Linked DNA regions of Homo sapiens. The protein of the gene in region 1 interacts with the protein of each later gene in a pairwise test. Each region holds a gene or a part of one and is shown on either strand. Other genes may lie near its edges.

Region 1 (3,655 bases):
GTACTATTGTGTCTTCAAATGTATTGAATTGTTTCATACTGCCATGTCTTTACATGAGCGGTTCAACACTAGAGTGCTTGCCTCTCTCTTTCTTCCATCACCATTCCCACACCCAGGCTCATCCTAATCACCTTTACCTCAAGGGGCATCTCCTTTATATTTTTCCCTGAGTCCTTGAGACTGACTGAGTTGATCATTCTCTTTTTTGTGTCACTATACTTTGTGCACATGATTGTTGTTGAATGAGCTCCTGCAAAGTTCTGCCCCAGAAAGTGAGATAGTCATTGCTAAGATGATGTTTTGAGTTGTACCTTAGATATAATTCAGATAGTGGTATTGGCTACTCTAGATAAAAGTTCTTTCATGACCCTTGAGACTATAGTAAGAGCACCTTCTCTGCCCCATTATGGTACCACTGACCTTATTGCATTATCGTTGCTTGCTTGACTGTTTCTCACTTCTCACTCATCTGAGAACTCCTTCAGGATGGGGTTCCAGTCCTACTCACCCTTTTCTTTCCAACATCTAGTGCCGTGCTTTGCCGGGTGTAGGCATTGTAGATAAAAGCTTAGAATCTGAAGCCAGATTGTCAGGGTTTAAGGTTTTGCTTTGTCACTAACCATTTGGCTTCAGCCACATTTATATTCTCTAAGTTTCCTTTTCTAGAAGAGGAGAATTACAGAATCTAGCTCTTTGGATTTTGTGAGAATTAAATGAACAAGTTTATATAAAAAATAAGAATAGGGTCTGTTTCAGAGTAAGCTAACAATGTGCTATTTGTAATTACAGTCATATTGCCTTGTATCTGTAGAGGTTACAAGTACAAATTCTACAGCTAAAACTCATTCACTCATTTATTTATTCATTAATCCATCCATTCATTTACTCAATGTTTAATTCATTTATTCACTAAAGATTTACTCCTTGCTTATTAAATAGCAGGTGCTGTGCTTGGTGATATGGGAAATAAAATAACTAATCAGACATAGATCCTGTCTTTTTAAAGAACTTATAATTTGATGGAGAGATGGAATATATATAAAAATAACTATAAGACAAAATAAAAATGCTTAGTGCAGTAAGAGCTTCAGATGAGGTCATACCAGGGGTTCTGAATATATGAACATTTTTTCAAACTCCCAGGGCTATGTTCATAATTACAGACAAGATTTTCACATTTGCCTTTATTAACAAATTAATCAAATTGTATGTACTTAATAGCACCTCAGCATACAGCAAGTCAATGGCAGAGAGAGATGATGAGAGTCTCTTCTGAAGGCACTACGTTTAGAAGCCTTTTCAGCACTATATTATTTCCAGACATTTGTGTTAAGATTGCCAGAGTAAAACAAATGTTTACACAAGTGGCATTTGTTCCTAATTTTTCACATTCATTAATGTTTCAGTTTTGAAAATCAGAATGTAATTTAGAAATTTAAATAGCAAAACGTAATATGTTATTAAGCCTTAAATTTTTCTTTACTTTGCCGTGTTAATTCATTTATTCTTTCAAGTGCTTGAATATTTAAACCATTTAAAATATTAATAATATACCAAAGAAGTATCAATATTTACATTAAGTTGGAATTCACACTGCTTTATAATATTTTCAATGGTTTATATTATTCATAATTTCACTAAATAAATCATCCTCATGGAAGGAACTTAAGCAAGCATATTATACTATAACTATTGCATGGCAAGCAATGTTTTTCTTTCAAATCGAGTGCTAAAGGATATTAGGCTGGGATAATAAAAGATGTAATATAAACTGATATGTTTTATTTCACATCAGCATTCTTAAATTATGGTAATGTAAAGCTCATAAATCATGGAAACTTATTACAGTATATTTTTAAGTTGTAGGAACATCATATATCCCATCCCCATTTCTGCAAAACAGAAATGATATTTATGATGAACTATACAATATTTGCATTTTTCAGAGATAGCTTACTATAACAAGATCGTAAGACAAATATACATTTGTCAAGTTACCATAAAATATTAACTCTAAGAGATAAGGATAATTCAGATAACTTTGTGGCACTGAAAAGACAGTATACTCTCTCTAGTCTTCTTTGAACATTTTGAGAAACATTTGATTTCAAAATTAAGAATATTTTGTGGCTGCAACAATTTGTTGGTTACTCAGCTTCTAAACAGCAGTAAAATTAATTATAGGAGGAAACATTCATGGAGGTTTCTAGCCTTTTACCCGATCCTTGTGTTTGTGCTTCTTTATTAATTTTTAGTCCTTAGGAAGTAAGATACATTAGAAATGTAGTATTTATTTGAATAAAATCTTAAGTTTTATTTTAAAATACAATTTTGAGTAAAAATATTATCTATATGGATAAAATATTTTGTCCATGATCATTTACTTACTGTTTCATTTTATGTATGGCTTGTGAAATTCTGGCTACCCCAAGATGAATGTTTTATGAAAACCAACCAAGAGTAAATTCAAGCCATGTTAATCTATACTTCAAGAATATGCAATACATTTAAAAAACAACAAAATCTCACCAAATCTACTGACTTCAGCCAAAAGACACTTTTTCAGTTAGCCCTATTATTTATGTATTTTTTCCTTTCTCAGCTCTAACATATTTTTTTAAACACATGTCGACTTCTACAGGGATTATAAAATCCTTGGACAACTATATGATTTGGGAGCAAAGTTTCCATGTGTAAGGATTGCGTGATGTATAAGGAATGTGTCACATCAGGTTGAGTTTTAAAATGAACGTACTCCATTCTTAGGTTTTATCTCTACAGATGGATAGGGGCCCAGAGGCCCCTGGAAGCATTTTGGTACCATTGCATTACTTACGGTTAAGAGGCAGGCTCGCATTGGTTGTGCCTAGCTTGTTGGCAGCCACACAGGTATAATTGCCGAAGTGCTCCTGTGTCACGTTGGTAACAGTGAGAATGGATCTTGTGCTAAAATTTTGAATAATAATTCCTTGTTGGCCATTGAAGAGCCTAGAAGACAAAATAAGCTCTAGGTAAATATGTATTGTGAATACCAGTTTCATTTTTTTATCTTAGCTGGGGTTGTCATGGCAACCCATAGACAATTCAACTACGCTGACGTTAGCATATAACGTGATAATGGTGCAATTTACATTTCACTTACATTAGTAGATTTGGGGGAGGTGAGGTTGCATGTCAGCTGTAGATTGTTCCTGTGGGATTATTTGTGCTATATAACAAACTGAGCTTGGATAGCTACATGTCCTATTTAGGCACTGTTACATATTTTAGAAAATGAAACATACCATACCAATAATATCTCATCTATTAAAGTCAGGAAGGAGTTTAAGGGAAATAAATATAAAGATTCCACGGAAAGTACAAACTGATGGTTTCTAGGTAAGCTGGCGAGAGTATGTCTGGGTCATTTCAGACATTATTAAATAACTCCCTTGAAAGTTAACCCTACAACTGTGATAGGATAGTTCTGAGTCCAGAGTCAACACCACTTTACTCTTGTACAACCCAGACAGATAACTTCCATTAAACCTAAAAAGAGACAGTCATATAGTATTGGAGATAGCATTTAAAGTTGAGTCCCATCACTGTCACATTTTAGGAATGTGCCATGGAAAGACTTTAAAACTCTCTGGACTTCAGCATGGGATTCAGCTAT
Region 2 (3,655 bases), on another chromosome or scaffold:
TTGCCTCCTTTTGGCCATTAAACAAATGTGTATAGAGGGCCTGCTATGTGCCATGTGCTATGCCAGGCACTAAGGATACGGCACTGAACCCTCTTAGCACTCTCATTCCAGAGGGGATTAATCCATAAGTAGAATGGGGGTGACTGGAATAGGGCCAGCTGGGGGCTTGGAGGCATGAAGATCAGATCCTGAATCAGAACAACAGGAGAAATTCTCTGGCATTCAACTCACATCTCTGGCATTCAGAGGTGATAAAGGCTACAGCAGGGCAATAGGACTGGGACTGTCGTCTCCTTTGGCTGTGCTGTTGCCCTCTAAATGTACCCTGCTTTTTCCCACCTTTTCTTTCTCTGTTCGCCCTCACTGTGCCTTGTCCCAGCATTCTCAGACACCATCCACATTGAACCCCACAATGCCAGCCTCTGAGCGGACAGTGGCCTGGGTCTCCAACATGCCTCACCTGTCGGCTGACATCGAGAGTGCCCACATCGAGCGGGAAGAGTACAAGCTCAAGGAGTACTCAAAATCGATGGATGAGAGCCGGCTGGATAGGGTACGATGGGCTCTACCAGCTCCAAGCCCCAGTGTTTCCTTTTACCCACAGGGGAGATCTCTAGTCACTTCCAAGGGAAACCTCCAGGGTCAGTTATGGTGGTAAGAAAAGGCAAAGACCTGATCACCTCTTGAGAAGCCTTCCGTCCATCTGGGGAGACCAGATACACACAGTTGTTAAAAGTCACTTTCAACTCTATTTTGTAGGTTATATATATCATAGACTATCTGGGGATCATCTATTTTAGGCTTACCTCCATGTTCTTCCCCAGGAGGAACATAAGCCCTGGCTCCTGTGACTGCTTAGGAAAGGAAATGTTACTTTACTGGCAGTAGGAGCTAATAAATTGGATGGGGATGGAGGGGGTTGCAGCTATATTACAAGTGATGTCTGGCCTACCCAGTCACTGTCCCATGGGCATAAGTGACAGTCAGTGGGCAGGGAATGCATGTGGTAAAGTAGTATGTATCAGTCATGTGTGAAAAGACCATCCAGACCCTCACTTGGTGGAGGCTGAGGGCAAAGGGCACCAAGAGCTCTGGGGCTAACACAGATAACTTAGCAGAAAGTTACTTGAGGAAGCTGTTGTTCCTAGGGCCTGAGGAAGAGGGCGGCTGCAGGATTAGGTCATATATAAAGAACATATGATCCTAACACGGGGAAGTGGTCTTTGAGCATAGGAAATGTTGGGACTGACTCAGATGGGCTTGACCAGCAAATTTAATGAGAATTAAACCCTAATATTAGCCCCAAGGCAGCCACCGTAGGAAGTTAATTCACATCTCTCCTCTGCATGTAGAAGGGTTGGTGATATATGTATGTATCCTCTTCAGAGAATGAGGAAATAGTCTTTTGAATCATTTTTTTTTCTGTGCTTCAGATGAGGAAACCTTGTTGAGAAAGGCTGTAGACTAGCACTATCCAATATAACTTTCTGCAGTGATGAAATGTTCTGTAATCTGTAGTGTTCACATGTGTCTAGTTGTGATTCAGGAACTGAATTTTTAGATCTATTTAATTTTAATTTTGTAATTTTTTTGAGACAGGGTCTTGCTCTGTCACCCAGGCTGGAGTGCAGTGGTGCAAACATGGCTCGAGGCAACCTCCGCCTCCTGGGCTCAAGACATCCTCCCACCTCAGCCCCCTGAGTAGCTAGGACTACAGGGTCGTGCTACCATGCCTGGCTAGTTTTTTTTCTTTTCTTTTTTTTTTTTTTTTTTTTTTGTAGAGACGGGGTTTTGCCATGTTGCCCAGGCTGGTCTAGAACTTGTGAGCTCAAGTGATCTACCTGCCTCAGCCTTCCAAAGTGCTGGGATTACAGGTGTTGAGCCACTGTGCCTGGCCTAAATTTTAAATAGCTACATGTGGGCTGGTGGCTACCATATTAGACAGCACAGCTGTAGACTCTAGAGCCAATAGGGCAGATAAAATGACTCTTCTGAGCTCTTCCAGCTCTGGAATTCCTAGATTCTCAGCCTAGAATTCACTTGTAGACCTCCTATCCTTGGCACCTTGACAGAGCCAAGGAGAGGGTCACATGGAGGACAGCACCTGCCTTTCCCCCGTCAATTGCCTTTTCTTCCTATGTCTCCAGCATGTGTTCTGGGGCCTGGCTTAGGGCTGAAGAGTCACCCTATTTTTAATTTCTGAGCACAGTTACTCAAGGTGTGTTTGTGAGTGTAGGTTTCTGTGTGGGTCTTCATGAGGGGCCATACATAGACCTCAGGGTGTGGGAGTCTGTGACCTTGCTCCATTTTGAGGGAACCTCAGCACCATGGCAGGGTCTTCTCAAAAGCAGGTGTGTGGATATGATCCACAGGCAGGGAAGGGGTTGGGGAAGGCAGCTGGATGTCCCTCAACATGCAGTGGCTGTGCTTGGCAGACAGGGATGGAGGCTGGGTGGTGGGCTTGGGGTGGGGCGCCCCTCATAGTGCGGGGTCGTGTGCCCGGCGGGCAGGTGAAGGAGTACGAGGAGGAGATTCACTCACTGAAAGAGCGGCTGCACATGTCCAACCGGAAGCTGGAAGAGTATGAGCGGAGGCTGCTGTCCCAGGAAGAACAAACCAGCAAAATCCTGATGCAGTATCAGGCCCGACTGGAGCAGAGTGAGAAGAGGCTAAGGCAGCAGCAGGCAGAGAAGGATTCCCAGATCAAGAGCATCATTGGCAGGTGAGGGGCGGCCTGGGGAGGGGGTTGTGAGGGAGAGCCTGAGGCTGGAGAGAGCAAGTGGGTGAGCTACTCCGCTGACTCCCATCCCCAAACTCAGGAGCCCACCAGGAGAGCCCACCACTCTCCTCCCCAGGAAGCCACCCACTCACTCATCACCAGATGGAGAGAAACCCCAACCTGCTTAGTGCATTAAATATCTCTTTACCAAACCCTGACCTCTCTTCTGATAGAGTAGCTTCGGAAGCCCTTGGAAAATGTACCTGTTCCTGTCCAACCATCACTGCATTTGCATTTACCCTAGGCCAGAGCTCCCCACTAGTTATTCTCAACTTAACCTGTGATGTTCACTCCAAACCTAAGCAGGGCTCCCTAGCCAGAGTAGGCCCTGCCCTTCCTGGGTGGACCCTCCCTCTCTAGCCTTGGAAAGGTGTTCTGTTAGAAAGGGTCTTTTAGCCTGTGTATGTTTTCAGCTGCTCCAGCAAGTCCTGGGCTCCAAAGAGGGTATCCTCAGCAAAGAGGTCAATTATCTTCAGAGTGGTGGGGTCGGGGTGGGGGGGACCCTGGGCGCACTCCAACCAGAGCCACCTCCATTTTGATCCATTCTAAATGTATTTTATGTAAGATTTAATTAGAAGAAAAGGGCTTCTTGAAATATTTTTTGAAAACCACTGCTCTAATTGATATCCTTTATGATAAATCACCTCGAGGATCTTCACAGTGAGGTGACATGGGGGATGCAGAAGCCAGGTCCTCAGCCATGGAAGGTCTGGGGAAGGGGCACTGCTGTCCTGATTGGGACGATGGAGGCCTGGAGGTGTCTGGATGGTAGAAGTCTTTGAGGCACAGAAAGCTGCCTTAGCAGGGAGGTGTAAGGGTTCCTGGGAGGAAGGTGGAGAGCATGATCCTGAGGAACAGGGAGTCTTGCATCACGGC
Region 3 (3,655 bases), on another chromosome or scaffold:
CTAGTATATTCAGTCCACGTTTGACTTACAGGACCTGAGGGAACAGATTTTACTGGTTAAGGACACAGAAGATGTTCCAATGATTTTGGTTGGCAATAAATGTGACCTGGAAGATGAGTGAGTAGTTGGCAAAGAACAGGGCCAGAATTTAGCATGACAGTGATGGAACTGTGCCATTTTAGAATAATCTGCAAAGTCAAAGGTCAATGTTAATGAAATATTTTATGACCTGGTCAGACAGATAAATAGAAAAACACCAGTGGAAAAGAAACAGCCTAAAAAGAAATCATGTCTGCTGCTCTAGGCCCATAGTCAGCAGCAGCTCTGAGCTAGGTTACAGGAATGAAGAACTATTGCCTAATTGGAAAGTGCCAGCATTCCAGACTTCAAAAAATAAATTTGAAGAGGCTTCTCCTGTTTTATACATTATGTGAAGAATTTAGATCTTATATTGGTTTGTATAAGTTCCCTGGAGAAAAAAAACTGCTCTGTGTATATCTCTTGGAAAATAAGACATAACAGATGTGAAAATATACTTGACTCTAATATGATTATACAAAAGAGCATGGATGCATTTCAAATGTTAGATATTGCTACTATAATCAAATGATTTCATATTGACCTTTTTATCATGATTCCTCCCTATCAAGCACTAAAAAGTTGAACCATCATACTTTATATCTGTAATGATATTGATATTGCAGTAGATAACTTTTTTGAATCAATTACCTCATTTTATATTTTAAAAATTATGGAATATCCTCTGTCATTATATTCTAATTGAAATTGTGCATAATGCTTTGGAAAAATGGGTCTTTTATAGGAAAAAAACTGGGGTAACTGATTTCTACGACTTTCAAAGCTAAAATATACAATATACTAAACCAACTCTAATATTGCTTCTTGTGTTTTACTGTCAGATTAAATTACAGTTCTTATGTATGATTAAATTTTAGTATATTAAAAAACAAATGGCATCATTAGGCCCAGGCTAACCATCAGGTCATAGTGAAAGAATGAAGAGACACAGAGAAAAAGACCTGCCCTACCTCCTGATGCCTAACACCGCACCTATCTCCTTTCCCTCGGGCTTCTTCTTCATCATAGAGATAAGGGGCCCTTTACCCCCATCTCTGCTTCTTGCCCACTGCCCTCAGAACTCTAATCCAGTCCCAAGGCCTCCCGTGTCCTCAATAATGGTATCACTTACAGAGGGATATTCGCTTTTCACTGGTAGTTTATTCAGGTAGCTATAGGTCTTGTCTTTTTGGATAGGGCAGTTAATTCCACTCTTACAACCATCAGGCTCAGGAATGGGAAAGGGAACTGGGACGCCCATCAGGATGCCATGCACCACGGCCTTGCTGCTTTTAGACTGAATATCTAAGAGAAAAAAAGAGAATCAGATGGCAAAGAAAATAACCTATTTTCAAACTCTAAATCAAAAATTCAGAAATAATCCCAAGCAACAGCATTCCTAGGGTCTATTTCTCTTGATAGTGGTGCTTGGTACTAGCACAGTGCAAGCATTCACTCCAAACACAATTATGCAAAAAAAAAAAAAAAAAAAAAAACAATCAGCAGAAGTTTTCTTTGCTCTTAACCTTGCTCTTCATGGCCCTTCACAGTTTCTTAGGAGAATCAGAGATACCTGGATAAACAACCTTATCTAACAAGGCAACTGATTTTTGGCAGTAAACTTTCTGTTTGCTATTTATATCAGCTTCTGTCCAAGTATATTGTGTGTCTTAAATGTCATGGTCTGTAACAACAGTGAAAGAGGTAACCCTTTAGCAGGGTAAGATTAGGCTGGATCACAGTAGCTCCCACCTGTAATCCCAGCACTTTGGGAGGCTGAGGCGGGTGGATCATCTGAGGTCAGGAGTTTGAGACCAGCCTGGCCAACATGGAAAAACCCTGTCTCTACTAAAACTACAAAAATTAGCCGGGCGTGGTGGCGCATGCCTGTCATCTCAGCTACTCAAGAGGCTGAGGCGGGAGAATCGCTTGAGCCCAGGAGGCGGAGGTTGCAGTGTGCTGAGATTGCGCCACTGCACTCCAGCCTGGGTGACAGAGCGAGACTCTGTCACAAAAAAAAAAAAAAAAAAAAAAAAAAAAAAGAAATTGGGTAAGATTAGAAAGACATGCAATTCTTTATAAACTTTACCCTCCACATCACAAGATGGCCAGGAGGAATAAAGGTATTAAAAAATGAGGGCAATCAGACTTATGAGTTATTAGGGTATTTTGGAGACCCAGAAAATTGGTTCTGTTTCTTTCCTTCTGTCTGGGTTGGGGATGACTTGTTCAGAAGGCTTTTTTTTTTGGTTTGGAACAATAGAGAGGCCAGGGTATAGTCCAGAGAGGAAACAGGGAGCTAGTACTTAGAGCTGTCTTTAGGCTTATGAACAAAAGATGACAGGAACTTTGAGGTTTCTTATTAGACTGTCTAGTCTAGTTTCACAGGACAGAAAATGAGGAAAAGATTCAAGGAACATGCCCTGCTTAGTAATAAAAGATTTTACATTTGTCTAGATTCTTAAAAATCTCAAAGTGATGTGGTACAAGAAAGCAAAAAGTTCCAATGATATTTCTTGAATATTGGAGAAGAAAGCTCAGATTTCTTGGCTATTTCTTGGGTCCCCAGTGGGTTCCCTAAATCTTAAGGAGGCTGTTAAGTATTAGTTGCACCTTTATTTTCAGGTGGGATGTAGACTTAATAGCTGAAAGGCATTACTGCTTAAAACAACATTTTGGAGGAGTTCCAAAGCTTAAAGAATTGGGGTCCATACTAATACTCTGCAGTCTGTAGCTAAACAGAGCTGACATTCCCATCATAGCCTACTATGCAATATGGGTCAAGACAGAAAAGCCAAGCTGTCTTCTCTAACCTGTGAACACATGGACATCTCCCTGTTTGCTTAAAGGGAGTCTGGGAGCCATGGACCCTGCATGAGAAGGGTGTCCAAGGGCACAGTGAACCCTAGCTTTGCATGAGGTGCAAAAGAAATCATAAAATTCATGACTGCCAATTCCCCTCCCCTCCATTCCCATGCTTATTCCAACACTTGATATTTAGGTTATGCTGTAACATGAATTTGAGTTAAGAGCCACTTTTACGCACTGCTGGTGAAGGTGACATTGACGCTGTAAGACTGTCCTTTGCTCAGCTGGCAGGGTTGGGTGGGGCATGGGCTCACATTCACTTCCTTTATAACTCCATCCACAGAACCTGCAAAAGAAAAATGAATTGGAATAGGAGAATAGGAGGAGAAATAAGCCAGCTAGGCTGCCCACCACCTAATGGGAAGGTGCTCTGCTCTCCCATTTAGGGTCAACTCATTCTCCTCGGACTGTTTCCCAGGATGGAATCTTTAAGAATAATGCCCAATTAGAAGTCAGAATCTTGATTCATCTTGCTGCTAAAATCATAGCCTTTAATTCAGATGATAAAGAAGCTAGTTGGTTTTTTGATCAAGAGAAAGTTAATATTTGTCAAACTAAATAATATCAAGACCATATCCATAAATGATCATATTAAAGGAATTAAACTTCAATCAGAGAAATTCCAAACATTCCTAGAGTCTTATCTCGCATTCTTAATGGTAAGGGTCACAGTTTAAACTTAAACCTTGAAGACGTTTGCTTCAACCTT

The links.
Region 2: the proteins of NEGR1 (region 1) and SYNGAP1 interact in binary tests that used the Homo sapiens proteins (3 or more experiments, as listed by UniProt).
Region 3: the proteins of NEGR1 (region 1) and NPC2 interact in binary tests that used the Homo sapiens proteins (3 or more experiments, as listed by UniProt).

What each region holds. Positions count from the first base shown.
Region 1 is NC_000001.11:71,589,981-71,593,635, forward strand, and holds part of NEGR1 (neuronal growth regulator 1 precursor), read right to left. Parts: intron 2,989-3,655; coding exon 2,837-2,988; intron 1-2,836. UniProt on the Homo sapiens protein: May be involved in cell-adhesion. May function as a trans-neural growth-promoting factor in regenerative axon sprouting in the mammalian brain.
Region 2 is NC_000006.12:33,444,065-33,447,719, forward strand, and holds part of SYNGAP1 (ras/Rap GTPase-activating protein SynGAP), read left to right. Parts: intron 1-379; coding exon 380-553; intron 554-2,510; coding exon 2,511-2,722; exon of another isoform or gene 2,723-2,734; intron 2,735-3,655. UniProt on the Homo sapiens protein: Major constituent of the PSD essential for postsynaptic signaling. Inhibitory regulator of the Ras-cAMP pathway.
Region 3 is NC_000014.9:74,483,205-74,486,859, forward strand, and holds part of NPC2 (NPC intracellular cholesterol transporter 2 isoform 2 precursor), read right to left. Parts: intron 3,233-3,655; coding exon 3,125-3,232; intron 1,384-3,124; coding exon 1,211-1,383; intron 1-1,210. UniProt on the Homo sapiens protein: Intracellular cholesterol transporter which acts in concert with NPC1 and plays an important role in the egress of cholesterol from the lysosomal compartment.